Regions from separate parts of the Homo sapiens genome. Here regions 1, 2 and 4 are each reported to be linked to region 3. The links are microRNA targets in miRTarBase. Many come from high-throughput screens and were not tested one by one. Region 3 holds a microRNA gene; each other region holds the end of a gene's coding sequence.
What was found. Region 3 holds the annotated microRNA hsa-miR-6834-5p (GUGAGGGACUGGGAUUUGUGG, at 4,365-4,385, opposite strand). A microRNA usually pairs through its seed, bases 2 to 8, with sites in the 3' UTR of a target mRNA and lowers its output. Matches are read on the target gene's strand: a 7mer-m8 pairs with bases 2 to 8, a 7mer-A1 pairs with bases 2 to 7 and ends in A, and an 8mer does both.

Region 1 (7,114 bases), not on the chromosome of region 3:
GGCATGGGAAACATATGGGAGTGGTACAGGAGGGTATCTATGTGTCTTGTTCCGATAGCTCTCTTGAGTAATTTCTTGTCTGGAAGCCCAGTTGGCATCATCTTGACTTCTACCTGGTGGTTTTGGATTAATTGGTCGTGACTCCCCCTAAACAGGAGGATTCGGTAGCTGAAGGGGTGGGTTGCTCCTCCACACCTGTGGGTGTTCCTTGTTAGGTGGAACGAGAGACTTGGAAAAGAAAGAGACACAGACAAAGTACAGAGAAAGAAATCGGGGGACCAGGGGACCGGCGCTCAGCATATGGAGGATCCCGCCGGCCTCTGAGTTCCCTTAGTATTTATTGATCATTATTGGGTGTTTCTCGGAGAGGGGGATGTGGCAGGATCATAAGATAATAGTGGAGAGAAGGTCAGCAGGTAAACACGTGAACAAAGTTCTCTGCATCATAAACAAGGTAAAGAATTAAGTGCTGTGCTTTAGATATGTATACACATAAACATCTCAATGCCTTACAGAGCAGTATTGCTGCCCGCATGTCCCACCTGCAGCCCTAAGGCAGTTTCCCCCTATCTCAGTAGATGGAATATACAATCGGGTTTTACATCGAGACATTCCATTGCCCAGGGACGAGCAGGAGACAGATGCCTTCCTCTTGTCTCAACTGCAACGAGGCGTTCCTTCCTCTTTTACTAATCCTCCTCAGCACAGACCCTTTACGGGTGTCGGGCTGGGGGACGGTCAGGTCTTTCCCTTCCCACGAGGCCATATCTCAGGCTATCACATGGGGAGAAACCTTGGACAGTACCTGGCTTTCCTAGGCAGGGGTCCCTGCGGCCTTCCGCAGTGTTTTGTGTCCCTGGGTACTTGAGATTCCTTCAAGCATTTGTTTAGCAAAGCACATCTTGCACAGCCCTTAATCCATTTAACCCTGAGTTGACACAGCACATGTCTCAGGGAGCACAGGGTTGGGGGTGGGGTTACAGATTAAAATGGAGTCTCTTATGTCTACTTTCTATACAGACACATTACCAATCTGATCTCTCTTTCTTTTCCCCACAGGTAGCTGGGTCTTTATTCCTGGCTTGTTTCAAAATTAGCCCCTGGCTGAACAGGATGGCTCATGCTTGTAATCCCAACACTGGGAGGCACAGGCAGGAGGATTTTTTTTTTTTTTTTGAGATGGAGTCTTGCTCTGTCACCCAGGCTGGAGTGCAGTGAGTGATCTCCGCTTGCTGCAAGCTCCGCCTCCCGAGTTCATGCCATTCTCCTGCCTCACCTTCCCAAGTAGCTGGGACTACAGGCACCTGCCACCATGCCCGGCTAATTTTTTTGTATTTTTAGTAGAGATGGGGTTTCACCGTGTTAGACAGGATGGTCTCGATCTCCTGACCTGGTGATCTGCCTGCCTCGGCCTCCCAAAGTGCTAGGATTTCAGGCATGAGCCACTGCGCCCAGCCCCACTACGCCCAGCTATTTTTTGTATTTTTAGTAGAAATGGGGTTTTGCCATGTTGGCCAGGCTGGTCTTGACCTGAGGTATCCTGACTGGGATTACAGGCGTGAGCCACTGGGCCTGGCTATTTGTTTTTTTTGAGAGAAGTCTTGCTCTTATCCCCCAGGTTTGAGTGCAATGGCTTGATCTCCACTCACTGCAACCTCTGCCTCCCAGGTTCAAATGATTCTCCTGCCTCTGCTTCCCAAATAGCTGGGATTAAATCGCCTGCCACCAAGCCCGGCTAATTTTTGTATTTTTTAGTAGAGACTGGGTTTCACCATGTTGGCCAGGCTGGTCTCGAACTGCTGACTTCAGGTGATCCGCCCGCCTCGGCCTCCCAAAGTGCTGGGATTACAGGTGTGAGCCACTGCGCCCGGCCGGGCCTGGCTATTTTTTATTTTTATTTTTGAGGCAGAGTCTCGCTCTGTTGCCCAGGCTGGAGTGCAGTGGCATGACCTCAGCTCACTGCAACTTCTGCCTCCTGGGTTCAAGTAATTCTCAAGCCTCAGCCTCCTAAGTAGCTGGGACTACGGGCACACACCACCACACCCGGCTAATTTTTTGTATTTTAGTAGACATGGTGTTTCGCCATGTTGCCCAGGGTGGTCTCAAACTTCAGAGCTCAGGCAATCCACTCACCTCGGCTTCCCAAAGTGCTAGGATTACAGATGTGAGCCACCATCCCTGGCCAAAATAAATATTTTAAAAATATTTGGTAGAATTCACCAGTGAAGCCATCTAGTCCCGATTTTTTTTTTTTTTTTTTTTTTTTTTTGAGACGGAGTCTTGCTCTGTTGCCAGGTTGGAGTGCCGTGGCCCAGTCTTGGCGCACTGCAACCTCTGTCTCCTGGGTTCAAGTGATTCTCCTTCCTCGGCCTCCTGAGTAGCTGGGATTACAGGTGCCCACCACCACGCCAAGCTAATTTTTGTATTTTTAGTACAGACAGGGTTTCACTGTGTTAGCCAGGCTAGTCTCAAACTTCTGACCTTGTGATCTGCCTGCCTCAGCCTCCCAAGGTGCTGGGATTACTAGCCCGAGCCACCGTGCCTGCCCCCCACCTCCCCACCCTTTTTTTTTTTGAGACAGAGTTTCGCTCTTGTCGCCCAGGCTGGTCTCAAACTGTTGACTTCAGGTGATCCGCCTGCCTCGGCCGCCCAAAGTGTTGGGATTACAGGCTTGAGGCAAGGCGCGCCGGGCCTTTTTTTTTTTTTTTTGAGTCGGGGTCTCTCCCTCCCAGGCTGCAGTGCAGTGGTGCGATCATAATCTACTGCAGCTTTGAACTCCTAGTTTCAAGTGATCCTCCTGCCTCTGCCTCCTGAGTAGCTAGGACTACTATTTTTTGTAGAGATGAGGTCTGGCTATGTTGTCTCAAACTCCTGGCCTCAAGCGATCCTTCCACTCCTGCCTCCCCAAACACTGGTATTACAGCCATGAGTCACTGCACTTAGCTTCGCCTTTTTTTTTTAGAGCACTTTTAGGTTCACAGCAAAATTGAGGGGAAAATACAGAGTTCCCGTATATTCCCTTCCTCCATACACTCACAGCTTCCCCCATAATAAACACTTCACACCAGAGGTCTACAGGTGTTACATCTGAGGAACCTACACTGACTCATCATATTTGCCCAAAGTCTACACTTTCAGTTGTCTTGGTGTTGCACATTCTATAGGTTTTGACAAATGTATATGTACCCACCATTATGGTGTCATACAGAACTTTGGGTGATTGTAACAAATGTACCACTCTGGGGGAGATTGAGTATGTGGGGACAGGAGGTATATGGCAACTCTGTACCTCCTGCTCAATTCTGCTGTGAATCTGAAACTGTCTAAAAGTCATCCAAAAAAAAAAAAACAAAAACCCAAAACTTCCACATTCAAAACTTATCTGACTTGTTCAACTTTTAGAGAAAAAAGACAACCCTTCGTGGTTATTTTTTTTGTGTGTGACAGAGTCTAGCTGTCGCCCAGGCTGGAGTGCAGTGGCACGATCTCAGCTCACTGCAACCTCATCCTCCCGGGTTCAATTGATTTTCCTGTCTCAGCCTCCTGAGTAGCTGGGACTACAGGCGGGTGCCACCATGTCCGGCTGATTTTTTGTATTTTTAGTAGAGACGGAGTTTCACTGTGTTAGCCAGGATGGTCTCGGATCTCCTGACCTCATGATCCGCCTGCCTTGGCCTCCCAAAGTGCTAGGACTACAGGCGTGAGCTACTACACCCGGCTGGGCCTTCATGGTTATTAAATGTAAATACAACGGGGCCAAGCTCAGTGGCTCATACCTGTAATCCCAGCACTTTGGGAGGCCAAGGCAAGCAGATCATTTGAGTCCAGGAGTTCAAGACCAGCCTGAGCAACATAGTGAAACCCCGTCTCGACCAGAAAATACAAAAATTAGCCAGGTAGTCCCTGCTACAGGGCTGAGGTGGGAGGATTGCTTGAGCCTGGGAGGTCGCGGCTGCAGTGGGCCAAGATGGCACCATTGCACTCCAGCCTGGGTGACAGAGCAACACCCTGTATACCGTATACAACTGCTTAGATATGTACATGATTAGTGACAAGAGGGATCCTCCCTTGGTAATAGAAAATTTGGGCTAGGCATGCTGCATCCCAAACTGATGAACCGAAACTGCTACAAATGGTCTCTACCAACACATTCCCACGGCTAAGTACGAAGAACAAGGGCGAATGGTCAGAATTAAGCTCAAACCTAGCTGAAGCACTCAACATTGATTCATTCCTTGGACCAATTACTTGCTAAATCTCTATGAACTGGTATCTTATTTGTACAATGAGGTTGCTATTTTAAAAATTAATGTTACCAGCTGGGCCCAGTGGCTCAGGCCTGTAAACCCAGCACTTTGGGAGCCCAAGGCAGGTGGATCGCTTCAGGTCAGTTCCAGACCAGCTTAGCCAACATGGTGAAACCCCGTCTCTACTAAAATACAAAAAAAATTTAGCTGGGTATGGTGGCAGGTGCCTGTAATCCCAGCTACTCAGGAGGCTGGGGCAGTAGAATCACTTGAACCCGGGAGGCGGAGGTTGCAGTGAGCCTGGATCGCATTACTATACTCCAGCCTGGGCAACAGAGCAGGACCCAGTCTCAAAGAAAAAAAAAAAAAAAAAGTACGTTACTTAAAAATGCCTGGGATATAGGAGTCCAAATAATGTTAGCAGTAAAATAAAACCAGTATTTTGTTTCCTTGAAAAAAATACATATACAAATCTCAACTAAGTCCAAAGTGTCAATAACATTTTGATGATGTAATTATTCAAACTTTTTGAGGTTTTCACTGTCACACATGCTGGAGTGCAGTGGCACGATCATAGCTCACTGAAGCCTCGAAGTCCTGGGCCCAAGGGACCCACCCTCCAGCCTCAGTCTCCCAAGTAGCTGGGTCTACAGGCACACATCCCCACACTCAGATACTTTTTTTTTTTTTTTTTGAGACAGAGTCTTGCTGTTGCCCAGGCTGGTCCGACCTCAAGCTATCCTCCCATCTTGGCCTCCCAAAATGTTAAGATGACAGGTATGAGCCACCATGCCTGGCCCAAAATTTTTCTATTTTTAAAAACTCACAGCACAAAAACTGTAGAAAAGAATATTTTATTGAAACAGTTTCTCAATTAACAATGGAGCAAAGTACAATTTGACTCAAACCTGTCCAACCAGCATCAACAGCTACTGAAAGAATTCAAACATACAGAAGAGGTGGGGGTGGGGTGAGGGGTGGGACCCTTAGGTCCCATCTCTGCCAATGTGGCAAAAAAAAAAAAAAAAGGAAAAGACAAAATGACTGACACAGCCAGGTTCATTCTTGTCTTGGAGCTGAGGCAGCAGCCCTAGCTCCTGCTACAGACGGAATACTGGAGGACGGGCTCCCTAGGCGTAGGTATGGTGGGTCGGGGGCCCCCAACCTAGCAGAGTGATGCACAGAGGAAGGCCAGCCCTGACCCTCCTCCTTCATCCACAGGCCTGCCTCAGAGAGAGGGAGGTGGCATCTCTACATTCACACCATGGTCTCTCCTTTCCCCAGGATCTTGGGATAGGGACTCACAGTAGAAAGCACATTTTGGTCAGCCCAGGGGGTCAGGGGGTGAGGGAAAGGCTCTGTCTGGGAGGAGCAGAACAGCAGAAGAGAGGAGGAGGCAGGGAGTTACAGGAACCTGGGGTACCAGGCTGCTGGGAAGATGCAGATTATGACAGAGCTTGCACGATGCTGGCACCCCATGCCAACCACTCTACGTGGCTTTCCTCTTCGGAGAGGTGGTGGGCTCCCTTCTTCACTGTGCCCCTCCCTCCTCTGGCCACTAGGGGTGGGAAATACGAGTGAGAATCCTTCCAGATTTACTTCCGCCAATCCAGAGGTACAGGCTTTTAGGCAAGGGGCAGAGAACTGCCCAATTTGCTGCAGGAAGCCAAGGAAACCCAGGGGGAAAGGAGCTGGATGGGAATGGGGAAGGGAGGCTCAGAGCAAGAGAAGCCCGCAGAGGGAGGAAAGAGCACAGATAGGCACTCAGAAACCAAACCTGGTAACTGAGGCTCTGCAGACACTGGCCTGAAAGGATGCTCATCGCATGGTGGGAGAGGAAGGGAGGGAAGGAACAATCACCAGAGAAGAGTGGAAACTCCCCAGCAACCTGATACCCTTCCCATCACCGGGACCCATCAGCCACTGGCAGCCATTCTCTTCCTACCCACAGGCAAAGGATTCAGAAATTAATAGTGATTTTTCCCAAATTTAGGGCCTATATGGGTAGGGAACAGGGAGTGGGGCTGGGGAGGAGAACAGTTTCCATTTTTAACCACAGAGGTACTGCAGAAGGAACCAGTGAGCTGTCCCTCCCTTCCCCTTCTCCACACCTCCAAATCACAGGGGTGAGAAAGGAACTCCAGCCGAGGGCAGGACCAACCCCTCCCCCAACCCTCGATGTTAAATAAATAGAAGTGGTGGGGGAAGGGGGTGGAGATGAATGGGGAAAACAGAGGTGGGGGTTATAGTTCGTCGTTCTTCAAAGGCCGCTTCTGTCCTGTCGATTGTTCTTTCTGTTCAGGTTCTGTTGGGAGTTTGGGGGAGCAAAGGAATCACCGCAGGTGAAACAGAGGAACCAACCCCAGTTCTTTGCAAAGGATTTCCTGAGACCCCACCAGGCTTCCCACCGTAGCCCCGGCTCCATCCTCACCTGCTCCAGGACCTCCTAACTCCAAAGGCTCAGTGTCTCCTGGCTCGGATCCTGCTTTGGGAAGAAACAGGTTAGTCTCCTCAGAAGGGAGGAAGAGGCTAAGGGAAGGCTGGGCCAGTTTTTCCATGAAGAGCCAGCTAGTAAATATTTTAGGATGCATGTACCACATTTGGTCTCTTTGCCTACTCTGTTTTTTGAGACAGAGTCTCTGTTGCCCAGGCTGGAGTGCAGAGTGCAGTGGCGCCATCTTGGCTTACTGCAACCTCTGCCTCCCAGGTTCAAGTGTTCTCCTGCCTCAGCCTCCTGAGTAGCTGGGATTAAAGGTGTGCGCCACCACGCCTGACTCTTTTTTTTGGTATTTTTTTAGTAAAGATGGGGTTTCACCATGTTGGCCAGGCTGGTCTCGAACTCCTGACCTCAGGTGATCTACCCGCCT
Region 2 (7,116 bases), not on the chromosome of region 3:
GAACAGTGGGGAGAGGATGAGGAAGCAGGAGCTGGTGGAGAGGAAGGCCTGAGAGGAAGGCTCTGGAAGGTGGGGCTCAGGTCAGGAGCAGGATTGCTGGGGAGGAACAACGCAGAGCAAGTGGAGCAGGGAAGGGTGTTGTGGGTCTGTGGTGGGTGCTGAGAGTGGAGCAGGGAAGGCTGTTGTGGGTCTGTGGTGGATGCTGAGCCAGCTGTCCAGGTATTCTGGGAGAGCAGGCCCTCAGACCTCAGTGCAGAGTGCTGAGGAAGGTGGAGACGTGCCCCATGGGTCGCCTTGCTCTGCTCTGCCCTCTGCAGGAGCACAAGGCCAAGGTGACAGAACTGGAGCAGCAGGTAGCTCAGGCCAAGACGCGCTACTCCGTGGCCCTTCGTAACCTGGAGCAGATCAGCGAGCAGATTCACGCACGGCGCCGCGGGGGTCTGCCTCCCCACCCCCTGGGCCCTCGGCGCTCCTCCCCCGTGGGGGCCGAGGCAGGACCCGAGGACATGGAGGACGGAGACAGCGGGATTGAGGGGGCCGAGGGTGCGGGGCTGGAGGAGGGCAGCAGCCTGGGGCCCGGCCCCGCCCCCGACACCGATACCCTGAGTCTGCTGAGCCTGCGCACGGTGGCTTCAGACCTGCAGAAGTGCGACTCCGTGGAGCACTTGCGAGGCCTCTCGGACCACGTCAGTCTGGACGGCCAAGAGCTGGGAACGCGGAGTGGAGGGCGCCGGGGCAGCGACGGCGGAGCCCGTGGGGGTCGGCACCAGCGCAGCGTCAGCCTGTAGCCGAGGGGCCAGGGTTCCTGGCTTGAATCTGCCACCACGGGCCGGTTGGGGCCCACAGTCTTCTCACGCCCTCTCCTCTGGGGCCTCGTCTTCCCGAAGGTCCCCTTCTCCAGTGCTTCCCTGGGAGAGGCCAGCTGTGTTCGAGTCCTCTGTGCCTGCCCTGGCGTTCTCACAGCCTCCCCCTTCCCCTCAGCAGGCGGCTCTCTTTGCCTTACCCATTCAGAAGGCTCGCCCTCGGCGCTCTGTCTGCCTCTGCCTGCCAGCTCATCACGATCTGCAGGGCATTGACCCTTTGCTTTCCCTTTCTGCTCCCTCTCTTTCCATCTGTTTGGCTTTTTCCCTCAGGGAACTTGGTCTAGAAGGCACTGGGAAGCTCATCAGAGAAAATGGGTGCTGGGCCTGAGTACTCCCGTCGGAGGGGATGGACAGTCACCCCTCCCGTTGGTTTCCAGCCCCGCCCCCCTTCCCAAGGCAACTCTGGAGGGTACCCTAGGTATGCTGCTGAGCCCTGCCCCCCGTCCTGCTCCAGCCTGCCCGTGTGTAACCTGTAAGATGTACTGTGTGCCTCCGGAAGACACCACCTTTCCCTTCAGCATTCCCTTTCATGACCTGAGGCACTCTGCGATGTGTGCCCCAAAGCAGAACTTACAGGGCCTGCAGGAAGCTGGTGTCAGGGAGAGAAACCCAACCCCACTGTCAACATAGGGAGCATCACCAACTCCAGACTGGCTCCTGTGGGTATGGTGTTTCCGCTGGGCTGGGTCCTCAACATTGCCAAGGTGCTAGTGGGTCCCTAAGAGGGCCCATGTTGGGGGTGAAGTCATGAGGTCCTGAAGGCTTAGGCCCCTGTCATTCCCACCCTCACTCTTGCTGCACAGTTGTGTTTACTTTTTCTGGGTAGAGGATGCTGAACTGACTCAGCACCCTCCTGCAGGACGGGGTTAGGGAATTTGGTGCTCAATTGCTCTCCCTTGCTCTTCCCCAAACTGAAAATACCTACTGCAGGATCCCTCGGGGCACACTGAAGCTTGGCTGCCAACCCTCTTACTTCCTTTGTTACAGGGAGGGGTTGGCTTGGGGTGAAAAGTTCTGCCCTCCGCAGGGAGCAGCTCCAGCTGCCTGGCAGTGCTCCCAGTTTGTAGGGAAGCCACACCAGATCTGGGTGCCTTGGGAGAACCAGTCCTTCCTTTTGACCCACCCCAGGAAGATGGAGTGCTCTTTTCTAGGCCCATGTTCTGCCAGCAACCGGGATGCGTGGGCAACTGGACTCTGCACGGGGGTCTACAGGTTGAGGGAGGTTGGTCACAATGAGAACCTCGGGGTTTGAGGTGGCCATGGGCAGACAGCCGAAAGGGAGGGAGGGTGTGGGTGTGCGTGTGTGCATGTGCTGGTGTGTAAGGGGGAAAGGGTCTTTCCTGGTTTTATTTAAATAAAGTAGTTTATGTAACAGTTAACATCTACTGTCCTTGCTGGAGGAAGAGAAAAGGGGCAAAGATGAGGCAAGGGTTGGGCAAGGGAAGAGCAGGGTTAGGCGGCAGGCTTTTTAGATGGTGTGGTCAGGGAAGGGAGGTGAAGGACCAGATTGAGTGAGCTGCGCTATGCATGCTCTTGCGGGGGTGGAAGGCCCCATGGCCAGGGTGGTCATGTACAGGGCAAGTGTAGAGAAGCAGGGGAGGAGTTGGTGCCTCATGGGGCCATGCTGTGTGAGGTGATGGGTGCCAGGAGAGGGTTTGGTAGAAAGGGGCCTGCGGGGTGGAGTGGGCTCTGTCTGAGCTAAGAGATGAGAGTGCCAGAGGGTTGGGATCTTAGATGTGTCTGGATGTGAGCATGAATGTAGAGAAGGGACACAAGTAGTGATGCCAGATTTATCAATACAGTGAACCCACTGAAATTTCAGATAGGCAGTATTTTTGTCTGCTGCAGTGTTTAGGATGTACTTACATTATGAATTATCCGTTGTTTCTCTGAAATTAAAACCTAGATAAAAGGTGACTTCCAAGTCAGGGCTTGACTGGCTGGGGGATGGGAGGGGTTTGAGGGCACTTGAACTCACAGGTGGGAGATTGGATAGGGATGTGAACTCCAGGAGCTTTGAAGAAGAGCAAAAGGCTTTGTTTAGCCTGAGCTGCACTTGGAGTGTACCAGTATTTGGAGTTTTGTTGAGAAGAGGTCAGCCAAGGGAAGAAGAAGGTGCTGGCAGGGAGGAAGACCAGAAACCTTGGGGTCAAGGGGCAGGGTGAAGGCCAAGAATTGGAGGCACGCAATCAGAGCAGTGACCCTGGTGGCTGTGGACGCCATCTGAGGGGCCATCTGGGGCCGCTATGTGCTGAGCACTCACTGTGCCTTTGGATGGGTGCTGTCCAGGAGTTTGAGATTGCCTTCCCTGACTTGGCAGATGGGTGTCATAATATTTTATTACTAGAAAAGCTGCTATGAAAATGCATAGCATATGTTTTTGGGTGAGTGGGCTTTTTAAATTTTTTAAATTGTATGTATAGGAGGTGAACAACATGGTATTTTGATGCACATAATGAAATAGGTATCAAATTGGCCTATCATTTTGCAGTTACCTCCCCCCTTTTTTGTTGTGAAACCGCCTAAAATCTACTCTCAGCAAATTTTCAGTCTATAATACAGTATTATAGTCCTAATGAAGGGCTTTCTGAGATGACACACAGTGCTGGACTTCCCTACCCAGTCACTGGCAGGCAGGACCTGTGAGGCTCCTGGTACAGAAGAGCCCTAGAAAAGAAGGGCTATGCCATGCACGTGCGTTTCTCCTTGCAAAATCACCTAGAAGATGCGGCAGGCGGGAAGAGAGACCAGGAAGGTTAGAGCCAATGGTACTTCTAAGGAGAAGAAGACAGAAGCCGAAGAGCTCCCTCCCTCCCACCCTCGTTGTAGTAACTTGTACTCATCCAGTGCATTTCACGTACCAGGAACGCCCCTAATTAATCTCTACAACAATGTTATAGGACAGATAAACACTATGATTTCCTTTCCACGGTAAGAAAATAAGGCACAATGGGGGGTACTCAGCCTTGCTGAAGGTAACGGAGGCGGCTCCCACTAGGCACTTGGACTCTAGAGTCCAAACGCTTGAACCACTGGGCTCACAGGAACAGGAGGTGAGGAAGTGGAGGTAGTCATCTCCGAGGAAGTTTTGCTGGGAAGAAGAGATGAGAAGTGGGAATACTGTTTCTTAGCTCCTTCTCCCAGCAAAGAGGGTCGAGAAATTTTGTTTAAGGTGAGGAAGAGATGGTCAAGGTGTGGGGGACATAGGGCCCCATCCCCCATTCCTGTACTGTGTCATGTTACATGTTACATTGGCCTGTTGGTAATGAATTGTTCTGATCTTCATCTTCCTCAAGTGTGGGGCTGGGGCCTCAGTCTACCCAACACCTGACACAGGCTCTCACCAACAGATGCTCAGGAAATGTGCTTTTGCTTCTTGCCCCTTCTCTTAGCCCACAGCTGTATCAGGTGGGTTTATCAGTACAGCAGTTTGGAGGTCAGGACCTGGTGATGCACAATCCCAGGATCACATCTCTATGGGAATTCTCAAATTTCATGACGCTTCAATTTTATCGCCTATAAAATGGGAGCATAGAGGCATGTGTGGCATGCTGCTACATCAGTGGATCTGAGGTGCAGCGATTCCTGTTAGCACCTCTTCACAGCCTCGGAGTGCTTAACTCACGGAGGCTTCATCCCATCTTGCGCTAGGCAAGTGGACTCTATGAAAGGGTTGTGTTTCCCTCCTCATCTGGATATGATTTTTGACAAGCATGACAACCCCACTGCCTTTTTAAAAATTTAATTTTTAATATTTATTTTATTATGAGACAGGGTTTTGCGCTGTTGCTCAGACTGGAGTGCAGTGGTGCAATCATAACTCACTGCGGCGTGGGACTCCTGGGCTCGAGCAATCTTTCTGTCTCAGCTTCCCTAGTAGCTACGACCACAGATGCACACCACCATACCCCGCTAATTTTTAACTTAATTTTTTTTTTCTCTGTAGAGATGTATTGCAGTGTTGCCCAAAATGGTTTTGAACTCTTGGACTTAAGCAGTCCTCCCTCCTTGACCTAAAGTGCTGGGATTACAGGCTTGAACCACTGCTCTTTGCCTTTTTTTTTGTTTGTTTTTGTGACACTCGTTCTAGCCCAGGCTGGAGTGCAGTGATGTGATCTTGGCTCACTGCAACCTCGACCTTCTCGGCTCAAGAGATCCTCCCACCTCAGCCTACCAAGTAGCTGGGACTACAGGTGTGTCCCACCATGCCCAGCTAATTTTTGGATTATTTTGGAGGCGGGGTTTCCCTGTGTTGCCCAGGGTGGTCTTAAACTCCTGGGCTCAAACGATCCCCCTACCTCGGCCTCCCAAATTGCTGGGATTACAGGCATGAGCCACCATGCCTGGTTATGCTTCCAGCCTTTAGACATCTTTTAAAATTGACATATTGTAATTGTACGTATTTGTGGGGTGTGGAATCAACCCATCTGTAGATGCTCCTACTCTGCCTGGCAGGAAGAGCGGAGATGACCTTCTTGGGCTGTCAAGGTCTTGCTGTGTCAGCAGGGGGCAGCAGCTACCAGAAAGTGCGCAGAGCCTGGGCTCTGCATTTCCCTGCGCGCACTGCGTGTTGACCCTCCAAGCCTGCGTGGTCAGCCTCATGGGCACTTTGCAGAAGGGCCTGAAAAACTGCACATAGAAGGGTGGGGGTGTGTATACATCAGAATGGAACCCTATTTGTACTTGTCATGGGCCTCTTGCATTCCCGTGTGTCCTCGGAATCACCTATTGCGTGTGAGAGCTGGCTCAAGTCTGCAGCGCAGCTGGTCTCAGGAGGTAAGATGTTCGATATGTAGATGTACCCTGTTCTCCTCAGAGCTCACCTCCTTCCTTGGCCTCCCTAGTGTCTTTTCCCTCTCCCTTTCCACAGCCTCTTTATAAATTTCTCCACCCACGCCTGCTCACCATTCCTGAGCCCCAGGCTGCAACACATTGCTCATGCCCTGGGATAAGGGAACCAGGAGACCATACACTGGCTGGCAAATGGATATGTGTAGTTTACTAAGAAATGTTCACCAGGATCTTTCAGTGTACAAACACTGTGGTAGGCCTTGTTAGGAACACTATAAACTGTAATGCCATGGGTGGGTCTTCCAGGTAAGGAATGCAGGTGTGCACAGGTGGTGCAGGGCAGTGAAAAATACATAACCAGGCCAGGAGCAATGGCTCACAGCTGTAATCCCAATGCTTTGGAAGGCCAAGGTGGGAGGCTCACTTGAGGACCAAGTTTGAGGCCAGCCTCAGCATCATAGTGAGAACCCGACTCTACAAAAAGTAAAAAAATTAGCAATGCGTGATGGCATGCACCTGTAGTCCTAGCTACTCCTGAGGCTAGTGGGAGGATCTCCTGAGCCCAGGAGTTTGAGGCTGCAGTGAGCTATGATCACACCACTATTTCAGAATGGGTGACAGAGGGACAACCTATTTCTAAAAATAAGTAAATAAATAACTAATGAGGGCTGCAGTCAAGGAAAAATCTGGGAGGTTACAGCTGGGCATTGCTCTCCGAAGCTCTGAACCAGCCCCTTGGTCTCAGACTGGAGAAGTGGTGCCTGGCTCCCAATCCTCACTCTTCCCAAATCTGTCTTGAGCTCCCAGGGCCTGTGTCTCACCCATCTTGGTGTTCTCAGGACCTGGAATGTGGAAATTTTCACCAAACAGCTGTCTACTGACTTACTTCTGCTTGTGCTACCCTTGGCACAAGTTTCCTCCCTTCTCAAACTGTCAAACTGCTGCCTGTGGTTTGAGGACCAGATCATGTGGTCAAAAGTCCACATGAGCTGGGATTCAACCACAGGCACCTCTCTAGCCCAGTCTGAATTAATCCTTATCACTCTCAAGTTCCCCATGGCTCTTTTGACTTACTGAAGAATGGGCCGGTTGTTGTAGACATGTCTCTTGTTGGTCCTAAGTCCTCAGAAGAAGGGGTCAGTATCATCCTTGACTCCATCTCACTCAACACATAACACAATAGACATATGTACAGGGACCATACGTGATGCATAGTCTAAATTGGGACAGCTGAGTGTGAAAGGGGGCAGGTGTGGCCTGGGACTGACTTGGGTGATCTAGGACATATGGTCACCCTCATTCTAGGTGCTCAGTAAACATTAGTTCTTTTGAGAGCTTCGGTGTTAAAAACACTGACCACACTATTCAGAGAGGGTTGCCCTTGGCCTGCCCCTGCCACAAGGGGTTATGTGCACAGGGACAATTCACTCAGCTCCTCTGGGCCTCAGTGTTCCAATCTGCC
Region 3 (7,116 bases):
CAGACCCCCCCGCCCCTTGCAAGGGGCTGTAAGGCACAAATAGCTGAGTGTGGGACAGAGCCAGATCTGTTTCTGTGCCAAGTCGCCTCAGTGATCTGTAAATGGGAAACTAGAAATAGCATCTACATTGATCTGTTATAAGGGTTAAATGAATTTGTATTTGTCAAGTGCTTAGAACGTGCCTGAAACGTAAGCACATCTAGGTTTTGTGATGGGCTCCTGCTCTATTGCTAGAGTTTGTTAAATAAACAAATACTGAGACCTTGGACAAGTTCCTTATCCTCTCTGGATAAGGAATCCTGTCGAATTGGATACTATCCAGTCCTCTCATCTGCAAAGCAGACTCGTTGTCTACCTGAGAAATTCAATTTAAAGGGTCAAGTGGAGTGCTTAGGCCATGATAGATTGAGGAGGAAGGCAGGGAGGGATCGAAGAGTCAGAGAGGCTGGAGGGAAGTGGTTGTGAGTTGGATGTGGCTGTGTGTGTTTAAGAGAGGGGATATTCTCTCTCTGTGGCCGGAAGGTAGGGTTGGAACTTTCACCCCATCCCCATTTTCCTCGCAGAATGGATACATCAATTTTGACAAGCGGAGGAAGGTGAGCGGAGTGTCTGGGCTGGATGCTGGACTTCCCTATCCATGTTCCAGGAAGGGGAGGGGGAAAAGTCAGGGGTCCCTGAGTTTTGGCTCCTGCAGTTTGAGGGCTCCTTCCCAGGAGTTTGCAGTCCTTTCTGAGTTGCGACGGCTCCAGAATGAATGTCGTGGCTATAACCTCCAACCTGACCATGATATCCAGAGGTGGCTACAGGGGCTCCGGCCACTGACAGAGGCTCAGAGGTGACTGGCGGGTGAGGTTGGGACTCCAGGGTTCTGGCCAGGTGTGGGGGATTGGTGTCATGTCCTGAGCTCTGCCTATTGCCCCCCTAACCCAGCCATCGTGTATCCTGTGAGGTGGAGCCACCTGGTTCCAGTGACCCTCCTGCCCCACGGGTGCTTCGGCCAACATTGGTCATCTCGCAGTGGACAGAGTGAGAGATTCACTGGCTGGGGGGTGGTTTCTTGGGACTTCCACTTTTCTCTGATCCTCCCAATCTCCTGCCACTGCAGGGTTTTGGGCTCTGTTGGGGTCCCTACCCCGCTTGTGTCCTGTGACCGGCCCAGTACTGGGGGAGATGAGGCGCCTACAACTCCTGCTCCTCTGCTGACTCGGCTGGCCCAGGTGAGCTCTGCTCCTGACTCTGACCTTGACGCTGACCCTCACTCTGTAAATGTTTCTTCCTTAAACCTCCCTGCCTTCATGCCAGTCCCATGTTGTTTGTTCCTAGCACATGAAGTGGCCATCTGTCTCGTCACTAGACTCTGCCTTGGAAAGCAGTCCATCCCTGCACAGTCCAGCTGACCCCAGCCACCTCTCCCCACCAGCCTCCTCCCCTAGGCCTTCTCGAGGTCACCGCCGCTCAGCCTCCTGTGGCTCCCCGCTGAGTGGGGGTGCAGAAGAGGCCTCCGGGGGGACTGGATATGGGGGAGAGGGATCTGGGCCAGGGGCCTCTGATTGCCGTATCATCCGAGTCCAGATGGAGTTGGGGGAAGATGGCAGTGTCTATAAGAGCATTTTGGTGAGGGAGCCTTGGGATGGAGTTGGGGTGAAGGATGGTGTCTTGTTGGACTATAAATGTTGTCTGAGGTTTGGGCAGCCAAATGGAATTGAATGTAGTTTTAATTTTGACCTTTGGTTTTGGCAGTTATGTTTTATTTTTAATTTTATCTTCTAAACTCTAGTCTTCAATAGAAGCTGAAATTTGTTTTATTTTGATGGCTATTTTGCATTAGTTGCTACACCTTAAACTTTTGGTCGCCGTGTTAAAATTTCAGAATCAACAGCAGTTTCCCCACAGGGAAGCAGCTCTGTTTCACTGGGCACCATGTGGGCTGGCTTATGGGGTATAGGAAGCCACCATATTGGGTTTTCCTGTTCATTTTAAAGCCTTGGACACAAGTAACATTTTGTGGTTGGGTTCAGTGGCTGAGGGTAGAAGGATGGGAAATCATGGCTGATTGATTGCTCTTTTGGTCTCCTGTTCTGCCAGGTGACAAGCCAGGACAAGGCTCCAAGTGTCATCAGTCGTGTCCTTAAGAAAAACAATCGTGACTCTGCAGTGGCTTCAGAGTATGAGCTGGTACAGCTGCTACCAGGGGAGCGAGGTCAGAGGCCATGAGGGAAAGGCAGACTCGGGAGGAGAGTGGAGTACTTCCACATCTGGGCGGCTGTGGGGGGAACAACTGTGTGTGTGCTTTACATCCATCCCCTGAACCTTCAGAGCTGACTATCCCAGCCTCGGCTAATGTATTCTACGCCATGGATGGAGCTTCACACGATTTCCTCCTGCGGCAGCGGCGAAGGTCCTCTACTGCTACACCTGGCGTCACCAGTGGCCCGTCTGCCTCAGGAACTCCTCCGAGTGAGGGAGGAGGGGGCTCCTTTCCCAGGATCAAGGCCACAGGGAGGAAGATTGCACGGGCACTGTTCTGAGGAGGAAGCCCCGTTGGCTTACAGAAGTCATGGTGTTCATACCAGATGTGGGTAGCCATCCTGAATGGTGGCAATTATATCACATTGAGACAGAAATTCAGAAAGGGAGCCAGCCACCCTGGGGCAGTGAAGTGCCACTGGTTTACCAGACAGCTGAGAAATCCAGCCCTGTGGGAACTGGTGTCTTATAACCAAGTTGGATACCTGTGTATAGCTTCCCACCTTCCATGAGTGCAGCACACAGGTAGTGCTGGAAAAACGCATCAGTTTCTGATTCTTGGCCATATCCTAACATGCAAGGGCCAAGCAAAGGCTTCAAGGCTCTGAGCCCCAGGGCAGAGGGGAATGGCAAAATGTAGGTCCTCGCAGGAGCTCTTCTTCCCACTCTGGGGGTTTCTATCACTGTGACAACACTAAGATAATAAACCAAAACACTACCTGAATTCTACTCCCCTGTCCTTGCAGTACATATGAACTGGCTGCTATGAGTGGGGGTGGGGAATTGGCTGAAGGTAGATGCCATGGAACAGGAAGGGGCACAATGTTTTCTGTCCCCATGAACAGAGCAAAAAGTGAGGTATTGGTGAAAAAAGTTTCCTCAGAACAGTTTCTCTCCAGTAACCTCTCTACCACTGGTCCCTTGCTGCAAATGTGTATAAAACAATTTTAGGACAAGGAAATGGCAGAACAACTTTATGGACAACATATAAACTTGGGAGGACTTATAATACCATAAAGCATTACATGCTGGGATTTTAAGTCAGTTTAAAGCTACATTCAAGCAAATTCTAGGAAGACAGAGGCTGAAAAGTACTAATAGAGATGCCAGGGCTGTTGGCAAGGAGGGTAACCACATTTCATCCTGGGGCCTCAGGTTAGAGAACTGTGTATTCTTTTTCAATTAAACCGACATTCCTAGCAATATGGTATGTTGCAAATGCCCTTCCAAAAGAATCATGCCAACCAAGATGAGGGAGAGTTAAGGGTTGTATATACAGGCAAGAAGTAGGTTTGAAGACATTTAGGATTTCACTTTCAAGAAAGAACACTGTGCCACAAAGAGATTCCAAGTGCAAGAGTTTGAACCTGAGGGGGTAATACAGGTGGTGTGTGTTAAGGTGGAAGGGGCTGTGGGGATATGACAGAAGTGCCTGGTCAGGAAACAGAGCCAGGTGTTTTTACATTTTATTAGCTACAGTATAGATCCTAGAGCTGCCTCATTCCCTCCCCTCCCCTCCCCTCCCCCCACCATGGGGTCAGGCCTTGCCAGGAGCCCCTGCCTTTGCTGCCTGGGCCCGCTGGAACTCCTGCTGCAGCTGAGCAAGGGTCTCCCTCTGTTGCTCTGACTGCCGCTCAAGATCCCGAAGCTGGGATTCGTATCGCTTACTAAGGAGAGACAAGGGAGACAAGCAGAAAGGGAGAAATTAGTAGGACTCACTATGGAGAGTGCTAAACGCAAGAAAGAGATAGGTGGAAAACTTGAGATCCAGGGGAGGGAGAAGAAGGGGGGTTAAAAGGGAAGGAAAGGGTTGGAGGAACTGGAGGACTAGGGGCCACTATGGAGAGCTGTTCTGCAATGGTTCAACACCTCTACTCCAATGGTTCACTTGCATCACAGGGTGCAGCACACGGTGGTGGAATAAAAACTCACATTTCAGCTGTGATATAGTCCAGCCTCTTCCCTACTGTGGCCCGAGCCTCCCCCAGCTCCTGTTTGACTAGCACCGGACCCAGAAGTTTAAAGACCACGTTGGACCCATCCAGCAGGGCCAGTTCCTGATGGAGGGATGGGACATATGTGATCAGAACCATGGCTAGTACAGGTCCCTCCTCGCCCCACAAATCCCAGTCCCTCACCTCTTTCACGATATTATTTTCTGTTAGTTGTGCTTCAAGTTTCTGCCTCCCCGACATGGATTTACTTAAGTCTGGGGATGAGAGGAAAGGCAATTTAGAAACATCAAATGTGCCACCTATCCCCACAATCCTAGTCAGGTGGATATGGATCTGAGGAAGCAGAAAAGGATGGGGGCAGCGGGTGAGTGAACAGGGAAGAGTACTGAGACTGAGGCGGGGAAGTCTCTGCACGCGAGGGCCCAGATGGGGCAACAAACCTTATCTCGGTAATGGCTTTGGGTTGTAAGTGCATTGGGCGAGACCATACCGACCCTGTTCCCTTACCCTTCTGTAGCTGTTGATATTTCTCCACTTCTCCCTGTAGCTTCTTCTGGATCAGCTCCGCCATGGCGGGGATGAAAGCCTACTGGGTGCGAGACAAGGGCGCTGGGTCTCACTCTCTGGAAGGTACCTGAGCTCCCTTTTCTGATCTGGCCTGCGGAAATGATAGCACTCTTGAGAGGTAGCCCTGAGGGGCACCGCAACCTCCCCCCCGTCCCGGATATCGACTCCACCCTGTCCCCAGGAGATGGTGGGCGAAACGCAAGACCCCAAGCCTCTCAACCGAAATCCTAACCTACTCACGTTCTTCCTTCAGTAGTAATAAACCCGGAAGTAAACAAGGAATGCTGGGAAAAGACTGTGCCGGAAGTTTCTTTCTGACCCTTGATGGGAAGTGTAGTTCTGACATGTTTAGGGAGTGGAGTTCTGCTAAAAAGACTAGACTAGGACATTTTTAGGCAAGATGGGGAAACTAATCCAGAAAAAGAAACCGCACCGCTACTTAGCCCCTGGCTCCGGACCTGCCTTTCTTTTTTAAATCACTCTTGCATAAGCTGCCGCTCGCGATAAGGTGCCAAAAACTGTTCCGCCCCTCTAAGGAGAGCGTGCCCTCACTCAAGATGGCACCTAGAGAGCTTCATACCTGGTACGCTGCTGATTGGATGAAGGACAGAGGGCTTCCGGGAGTTTTCAAGCCGACTGTGTGGCAGCTGAGAGGAGTTTTGCACGTGGATCGCCGTTCGGGTGGGCGAGATGGAGACAGCCCCCAAGCCGGGCAAGGATGTCCCGCCCAAGAAAGACAAACTTCAGACCAAGAGAAAGGTAGAGGCCTCCCTGGGTGGGAAACGAAGTTTTTAGCTGTGGGGTCGGGGGGCGGGGCGTGAGTGCGGAGTTCCTGATGTGCCTGTAGAAACCGCGGCGATACTGGGAGGAAGAGACCGTTCCGACCACAGCCGGAGCCTCTCCAGGGCCTCCTCGTAACAAGAAGAATCGGGAGCTCCGTCCTCAGAGACCAAAAAATGCTTACATCTTAAAGAAGTCTCGGATCTCTAAGAAGCCTCAGGTCCCGAAGAAACCCCGAGAATGGAAGAACCCGGAGTCCCAGCGCGGCTTGTCCGGGGTGAGCGTGGGACCTGATGGGTGGCGAGGCAGGCCGCCTCGTTCCTTGAGAGTGAGAGGGTTGGGGTCAATCCAAGGCTGTCTGCTAATTGCGTCCTCCTTTCCCCTAGACCCAAGATCCATTCCCAGGCCCCGCCCCCGTCCCTGTGGAAGTGGTCCAGAAGTTCTGTCGCATTGACAAATCCCGAAAGGTGAGGTCCAGCCGGAGAGTTGGGAAGTGCTGGAGGCAGGGAGTGTCTGGGTGAGTTGGATGGAGGCTGGGACAGGTAGCTCTCCTGTGACCCCACTTATCCTGTGGTTCTTCTGCCACTCCTCCCCACCAACAATGTTACAGCTACCACATTCTAAAGCCAAAACTCGAAGCCGACTTGAGGTGGCTGAAGCTGAGGAAGAGGAAACAAGTATCAAAGCTGCTCGTTCTGAGCTGCTGCTTGCTGAAGAACCTGGGTGAGTGAGCCCTAATCTGGACCCCCATTCCCTGCCTTTTGGGACTGTCTTTTCTCGTTTTTATGTTGGTATACTTGCTTCATATTGGGAAGCTTTACTGCCATCCTAACCCTTGCTTTCAGGTTTCTGGAAGGGGAGGATGGGGAAGACACAGCAAAGATATGCCAGGCTGACATTGTGGAGGCTGTGGACATTGCAAGTGCAGCCAAGGTGAGCCTGAGGAGGTAAAGGAGCCAAGGGATTGATTGGTGGTGCAGGACAATAGAGGAATGGGGGCTAGAAGAAGGCGTTACTGCAGGGCACTCTTTTTTTTCACTCTTCTCTTTCCCAGCACTTTGACTTGAATCTGCGGCAGTTTGGACCCTACAGACTAAACTACTCTCGAACTGGAAGGTAAGGTTGAATTCTAGTGACTCTTGAACTAAGATGTGTTTCCTTAACCACTTCAGCCATTCCCAGTGTATGTTTGGGTTGCTGATGAGGGGAGGGTCCTTCGATTTGCTTGGGTGTGAGGGTAAGCACCTACAGCAACATGTGTCTGCCCGCCTGGAGAGATGGGGCTGGCGTGGGGCAGACCTCAAGTTGTCTGAGTCGGTGGTCCCCTGCCTTAACACCCTGCCTGCCCCTCACCTCCAACAGACACCTGGCTTTTGGAGGGCGCCGAGGTCATGTGGCTGCCCTTGATTGGGTAACAAAGAAGCTTATGTGCGAGATCAACGTCATGGAGGCGGTGCGGGACATCCGGTCAGTGGCCTCACTGTCAGCGGTCAGTTGGGGTGAGATAGTCCATTCCTGATTGAATGATAGCCTGTGACCTCATTTCCCAATTGAACCACTCTTCCTC
Region 4 (7,102 bases), not on the chromosome of region 3:
TCTATTTGAAAAATCACAAAAGTTGGCCTTGAATTTCATCGATCATATGTCTTCAATTAAGTTCTATCCTCTGGCTACACTTACTCTCTAAGTGGTTTCATCCATGTCCTGACTTAAAATAAGATTACACACTGATGACTTCCAAATATATTTATCTCCAGCCCAGACCTCTACTTTTCCAGGTTCAAATATCCAACTGCCCACTCTACATTTTCCTTTGGACGTCTGACAGACAAGTCTACCATAACATATCCAAAAGTAAACTCTCAATCTACCCGCTTAAGCCTGCTCCTCTGAGTCTTCGCCATCTTATTAATGCCCACTTCATTCTTCAAGCCAAAAACCTTGATCATTCTTTTTTTCATACCTCACATCCATTCTATCAGCATATCCTTTTGGTGCTACCACCAAAATACATTCAGAATCTGACCACTTATTATTTCCATTACTCTTAATCTCAAATTGTACCATTTGTCACCTGGATTTACCATATTATCTTCCTACTACTACCTGCTTCCATCCTTGCTTTGATCTGAATCCTAATTGCTTGCTAGCTCACTCAGTAAAGTCCTACTCTTGAGAAAGGGCTATAATGCCCTACGTAATTACCTACAATCAGGCAGGATTATTACTCCCAATCTCTCTCAGTTCATTTTCTAATTCTCCCTAAAATGCTATTATTGTTCACTACAGTCACACTGATCTCTTTACTGTTTCTTTACACTCTGTACCAGCTCAGGGCCTTAGCATGTAATATTCCTTCTGCCTGGAATGCTCTCCTCCCAGATATCCACACTGCACAACCATTCACCTCCTCAGGCCTCTGCTCAATGTCACATATCAGTGTACATGCTACTTAATAGTAATCCTATCCTCACACACTCTCTGGGCCCCTTCCTCAACTTACTTTCCCCATATAACCTTGTCACCAAATGATAAACTATTTTACTAACCAATTAAAATAAAAATCCCATAAAGGTTCGAAATTACTGTCTTGCTTCGTGCCCTGCAATATATTCAGGCCTAGAATACTTCTTGGCATATAGTAGATGCTTGAGATTTGTTAAATTAATGATTTAGTCTAAGGAGAATATTAATAATTTTGTTTGATTATAAAAATGGCAGGATAACACAGGAAATCCTAGCTATTTCTTTTTATAAAAGACAGTAAATTTGTCAGAAAAAAATAAACTATCATAACTAACCACTTCTTGTTCAAGTAACAAGACGCATTCATTTAACACCTACTAAGTGCTGTGGATAGGGCCTATTTGAACTTCGTAACAATACTGGTAGGTATCATTATCGCCATTTTACAGAAGAAACTGAAAATGACATAGGTTAAGTGGCTTGTTTAAAAGTGACATTAACAGGAATGTCACAAAAAGAAAATCAAACTCAGGTTTCTCAGATAATACTTCTATAAACTCTCTCTCAATAGGCATAGTTTCAGGGAATAATGTAAATTTCAAATAGGTAAGATTTCTACATTTGTAGATAAAAGTAACTGTGTATGAACTTGCTCTAAGCCATTTTATTTGCATGACAGAATAGTAAAGTATATAAACTAACTTCACTTAAGTCAATACTCACAAGTTAATTCTGCTAAGTTTGATAAGTTAGTTTAAGTCTCAAATGACAAGTTGCTCAAATAAAGTTAGTTTTTCCTCTTTCATGGTTCAAAGGCAATTGTTAGCAACAGCAAATTTTTTTTTGACCTTCAAAATATGTGAGGAGCTTTTATCTGTGATCTATTTTCTATGTGAAAAAGTTAATTATTTCCCAGGAGTGGTGGCTCACACCTGTAATCCCAGCACTTTGGGAGTCTGAGGTGGGTGGGATCACTTGAGGGCAGGAGTTTGAGACCAGCCTGGCCAACATGGTGAAATCCCATCTTTACTAAAACAAACAAAAAAAAAAATACAAAACTTAGCTGGGCATGGTGGCAGGCATCTGTAATCCCAGCTACTTGGGAGGTTGACGCACGAGAATCTCTTGAACCCAGGAGGTCGAGGCTGCAGTGAGCTGAGACCGCACCACTGCACTCCATCCTGGGTGACAGAGTAAGACCCTGTCTCCAAAAAAAAAAAGGGAAAAGTTAATTATGGCTAATATTCTACACAAAACACACACAGCTCACAGAGTTTTGGGGAAATCTGGCTCTCTCTATATATTCACTTCAAGTATTTATTAGCTTTTTAAAATCCACAATTTTAACCTCATACTTAAAACCAAACCCATGAAGTATGTGGAAAAAATTCATTAATATCTTAAAGCTCAGAAAGCCAAAAACACCCCAGAAGGATAAAACTTCTAAAAAATGATATAATTTGGGGGAAAGCTAAGACATTTTTAATAAAACGTTTGCTATTAACTCCCATTTATGGACCATAGAGCCAAAAATAAATGCAACAAAGCTCCAATAAAATTGGCATTATAAGACAAGATTCAATACTTAGGTTAAAATCTAACCTTACTATATAGTGTTACTAGATGTATTTTAAGGAATATTTAACACATGGTAAATCAGAAACCATGTAAAAATGAGCCATATTATAAGAGGTTCTAATACATGACACAGCATACACAGCAAAATGTTTCATCGATCCTAAAAAGAAAATGGTCACACCAATAACAACTGGTCAGGAAAAGGAGCAAAGGAAACACTATCTGTACTAATAGAATGTAAAAGATTGTAAGGTGGACACAGCAAATGTATGATCGATCAGTTTTAAGACTGTTTTTAAAAACATAAATAAATTGTGCTTTAAAAGATCTAAAGATTTGTTCCAGTGAAGTACAAGTTCACTAGAAAAATCTCTACAATTAAATTAATGACAACTTATCCAAGGTTTGGGGCAGAAATTCATCTTTCCACAGTCTGTAAGTTTATCATAAAAATTAGACTGCTTTTTGGGCTTCCACCATACTAATCATAGGTCTATTAACAAAAAAGAACAAATCTTAAACAATAGGTTTACCTGGTTCTTACCAAATATTCCTGAAGTAATAAAACTATATCATTAAAAAAAGATATAATCCAGAATATTTAATAATTCAGACTAGCCTTTCCTATTGAGGAAGTTAATGAAATTGTTATTCCTCTTTCTCCTGAAAAAAAAATGATCCTTTCTTTGAAATGTTTCCTTGTGATGATTTCTAATGTCACTCAAAAAGTGGTATTTCCTCAAGAGGGAAGGATTCCTCCTTAGAGGTAAGAATTCTTCTTTAGGAGTAAGACTTTTGGGTTTTTTTGGGGGGGGTTTTAATTTTATTTTTTATTTTTGGCCTTTTGCTTTAACAAAGAAAGGCATTTAGTTTTCCTTTTTTTTTTTTATTAAAATGCCCTCAATTTATTTGATGCCTTAGACATTTAAAACATTAAGCTGTAAGAGCCTTGAAGGCCAGAACAAAGTTTTATCAGAGATGAATTATCACAATAGTTTTAAGTACACTTCTTTAAGAGGGCAGAAGAACAACACCTGGCATTCTTACCAATTACACCTCAAACTGAACATATATTTCAATAAATCCTTTCATAATTTCACATTAGCAAGTAGGCAGACAGGACATGTTTTGTTGAAGAAATACTTCAAAGTGAAATGTTTCATTTTATACGTATGTATCATGTATTCTGAATCTGTGCTATTCCACATACCTTGTATGCCTTGAAAACTCTGGAGTTATCTCAGAATTTACTCCCACCCCGACCCCGAGTGATGGCATTCAATATTAAGATATAATTTTTGGTTTGCTAGATGAAAAGGCATTTGTATTTAAGAGAAATACTCCTCAATCTAACATTCCCAAAGAAGGCTTCAAATTGCAGTTCAAGAAACACTAATCTAGAGTGCTTCTGAGTAAAAACCAATAAAATCTATACATTATACACAAAAATGCTACTACTGTCAAAAATGTATTATATCAATAATTTTATCAGCAGCATTTAAGAAATAAGAAATCATTAGACAATAGAAGACAAACATGGTAATGCAGTCAGGCCAGCACACAATACACCGTTTTCATCACACACTGTCACCTGAATCCCTGGCAATTTCCTAGAGGTATTAACATCATACCTTATTAAGAATTATTGGCCCCGAGGAGTGGGGGGGTGGGGGGGTTGCAATCTGTCCAATCAACATCTGGCTCTACTTTCTCCCAGTAGTATTACATTTGTATAATATTCTTATAGAAACAACTCAACTCCATGTTATAAAGCACCATACGGTATTTCATCCTGTACAAAGGGAAGTAGTTCTGAAAATTTTACAACAGGGTTCGTGGGAAGGCACTTAAAGCTAACTAGTCAAAAAAGGAACCACAACAGTTAGACTTTTTTATACTGCAGGGTCCTTAATATTGTATTGTTTATATCACTTAACATTTTTGATCATAAATTTCCCAGTAAATTAAATGCTATTCAAAATTAACAAAGGAAAGACAGGAAGGGACACAGCCCACACCCTGACTGATGAATTAGGCAGAGTAAATTTGCCTTCAAAGTAGGCAAATGTTATAACTTTAAGAAGGTAAGAGAAATAGATGGAGCAATAGAGTAAAGCAAGCGTGGCCTCAGTGGTACTGGACTCCAAAGTATGGCTAGGGTAGGATAGGACAGTTGACTTTAAGGGAAAAAATAAAGTAAATTTCATTTTCAGACTCAAAAAGTCTTAAAGGTATCTTTGGATAAGTATGCAAAGTAAATACTGTTGACCCTTGAACAGCATGAGTTTGAACTGTGTGGGTCTGCTTATACGCAGATTTTTTTAAACCAAACATGGATTGAAAATACAGTATTCCCGGGATGCGACACCTACATACACGGGGAGGGCTGACTTTTTATACAGGCAGGTTCCACAGGGATGACTGTAGGACTTAAGTATGCACAGATTTGGGTATACACAAGGGTCCTGGTATCAATCTCCTGCGTATACCAAGGATGCCTGTGCTTTCATAAATATACCTTTTAAAAAACATGTCATCTATAAGCTTTAAGTGTTCCCTATTTTACTCAAATACTGAAGATGAAAAAGATATTACCATTAGTTCAGGTTACAAATGGACAATTTATAAGATTTTGCTTATATGTTTTGGAATTTAACAAAAGTGGATATGTTCTTCAGTTCAGATGTGCCTTGAAGAGTCAACTAAATTATAAATTTAAAGGTCTACAAATCTAAATGCTTTCCTTATAATAAATTTGATATTAAAACATCATTCATAATATTAAATCCTAACACCACTGGTATGCTCAGTTCATAACTCAGTGATTCTAATACTTAAGAGGAGCATTCTGTATTATCCTTTTCTATAAGACATTTAGGAAAACTGTCTCCCACTATTATGGGTGTTTCAGAAAACTGTACAAAGTAATCTTATTAAGAAGGCAAGTAAAACAGTGGCAATCATTTTTTTCCCAGCTGATTAACTAAAAAGCAAACAATAAAACACTTTAAAATGTCATTCTCTTAGGTAATCAATATGGAGAAATCATTCTTTAAACAAATTCACCACTGAAAAATCAACCTTTACCTTAAATCCTAATAGAAACACTCCCTTATTATGGAAAAATAACCTCTTTACTTCTCTCTACTCAAACAATGACACTAGAAATGTTTCTGAAGTTGTGACTGGGCTATGAATATGAACAAAGTTTTCATATCACTGGGATACTGGATGGTTTGAAAAGGAATGTACAAACAGGCCTGCTGCTAGTACAAAAGTGCCTTTTACATGAATTAGGAAAGCCTTCCCTTTCCTCAAGACACTTGATTACCAACAGGCAGAAAATTGTGATAATTAGCAAGCTGCAATACTACCAACGTAAATGGCTCTATTGAGTTGTGCACAATTAATTATACCCAGAGTTCTCTCATGATTCCTTATTCTATTGTCTTCTTTTCCTATGTGTATCTTAATTAAATCCATATCACAGCTAACGTTCTCTTAAGGCAAAAAAAAAAAAAAAAAGTGCTTTAAACAAAATTCCCTATATAATGACAGTTAAAAATATAAATATGCTATTATCAACAATAATAATGATGATACAACTTAATAATACAACTTTTTTAGAAAACAAAACAACTGGACATAATCTTTCCAATTCTAAGCTCTCTGAGATAAGACATCTGCATAAGACCTTGGCAGCTTTTATAGAAACCCAGAGCTAAAAGTAGGAGCATTTTTCCAATACCTAGAAATGTTTATTAGCTGCATCAGCAAATCATTATCCCAGAAGTCAAGGCCAACAGTCTTCCAAATTGTGCAGAGATGACTATAATGAGCCATACCATCAGCAGACTATGTTGCCAAATATTAAGACTGTTTAAAATCTTGAAAATTCTGTAAATTCACGGTGAATTGGAACCTCAAAAATCAAAAAATTCAAATTTACAAAAATAAATACCACTCTGACACTCAAGGGACATCTTCACTTTAAGGCCTTTGTCACAAATCTGAATCTTTATTGTTCTGAAATAAATGTTATAAACATAACTCAAAACAAAAACTTCAATATTCAGTCTAAGAAGAGGTGTGGCTCAATGCCCATCACATGTAACAAGAAAAACCTCCTTTAAAAAAAGGAAAAAAAAGTACTATGAGAAGTCTTTCATATGAATGAAAATGCACCCGTTGGATTTTTTTCCCCCTCATCACATTAGCTTGTATACACGTGGGAATTGAAAGGTTTGCATTTTCTTCACATAGTTCTTGCTATGATGTCTGACGGACTTTTTGCCACTCAACAAATTCATCAAGAAGAACAGGCCCTAGAAAAAAAGAAACCATTTTTGTCAGAATTCAGTGAACTCATCTCTCCAATTATAAAACAAACTCCCCACGAGCTCTGCAATGACAGAGGAATGACCCTTCCTTTCTTTGGGTGTTCTGCTTCTAGACACCTTATTCCATTTAATGGTGCTTTCTTATTAGCCTTTTCTTTTTTGCCCTTAAAGACACAAGGAACAATGGTATCTATAGCAACTTCCTTCTCAAGGTGTTTCATGAACCCTCCAGTAACTGAGTCAATACAAATCTCTCCCTTTTTCTAAGTGTCCATAGCATTCTGGCATTTAATTATGAAACAATCTGAAAAGTG

Region 1: the mRNA of HYOU1 is a reported target of hsa-miR-6834-5p. Seed matches in the 3' UTR shown: 7mer-m8 at 5,593-5,599.
Region 2: miRTarBase lists SH3BP5L as a target of hsa-miR-6834-5p. Seed matches in the 3' UTR shown: 7mer-m8 at 1,126-1,132.
Region 4: the mRNA of DCUN1D5 is a reported target of hsa-miR-6834-5p. Seed matches in the 3' UTR shown: 7mer-A1 at 1,846-1,852.

The regions. Positions count from the first base shown.
Region 1 is chr11:119,039,103-119,046,216 of GRCh38, forward strand. HYOU1 (hypoxia up-regulated 1) reads right to left here. Exons shown (of 26, transcript NM_006389.5): 25 at 6,679-6,729; 26 at 5,086-6,552. The coding sequence ends at 6,491. HYOU1-AS1 (HYOU1 antisense RNA 1) reads left to right here and starts at 5,086. Exons shown (of 2, transcript NR_186315.1): 1 at 5,086-5,643; 2 at 6,283-6,391.
Region 2 is chr1:248,805,572-248,812,687 of GRCh38, reverse strand. It overlaps SH3BP5L (SH3 binding domain protein 5 like), which reads left to right. Exons shown (of 7, transcript NM_030645.3): 7 at 318-2,242. The coding sequence ends at 788. It overlaps LOC124904577 (a long non-coding RNA gene), which reads left to right and starts at 5,170. Exons shown (of 2, transcript XR_007067008.1): 1 at 5,170-5,639. RefSeq lists a silencer at 279-328.
Region 3 is chr6:33,287,514-33,294,629 of GRCh38, reverse strand. MIR6834 (microRNA 6834) reads right to left here and starts at 4,385; the gene lies at 4,305-4,385. WDR46 (WD repeat domain 46) reads left to right here and starts at 5,391. Exons shown (of 15, transcript NM_005452.6): 1 at 5,391-5,528; 2 at 5,617-5,826; 3 at 5,936-6,016; 4 at 6,160-6,272; 5 at 6,395-6,482; 6 at 6,604-6,665; 7 at 6,912-7,016. The coding sequence starts at 5,460. It overlaps PFDN6 (prefoldin subunit 6), which reads right to left and starts at 5,029. Exons shown (of 4, transcript NM_001185181.3): 1 at 4,710-5,029; 2 at 4,386-4,456; 3 at 4,180-4,304; 4 at 3,697-3,914. The coding sequence starts at 4,773. The coding sequence ends at 3,785. RGL2 (ral guanine nucleotide dissociation stimulator like 2) reads left to right here. Exons shown (of 18, transcript NM_004761.5): 12 at 564-596; 13 at 714-835; 14 at 931-1,026; 15 at 1,106-1,217; 16 at 1,324-1,614; 17 at 2,086-2,200; 18 at 2,317-2,976. The coding sequence ends at 2,528. RefSeq lists enhancers at 5,263-5,796, 6,331-6,864, 6,865-7,116.
Region 4 is chr11:103,055,642-103,062,743 of GRCh38, forward strand. It overlaps DCUN1D5 (defective in cullin neddylation 1 domain containing 5), which reads right to left. Exons shown (of 8, transcript NM_032299.4): 8 at 1-6,773. The coding sequence ends at 6,718. Among named protein-coding and RNA genes, the nearest start is that of DCUN1D5, 33 kb to the right of the region's middle.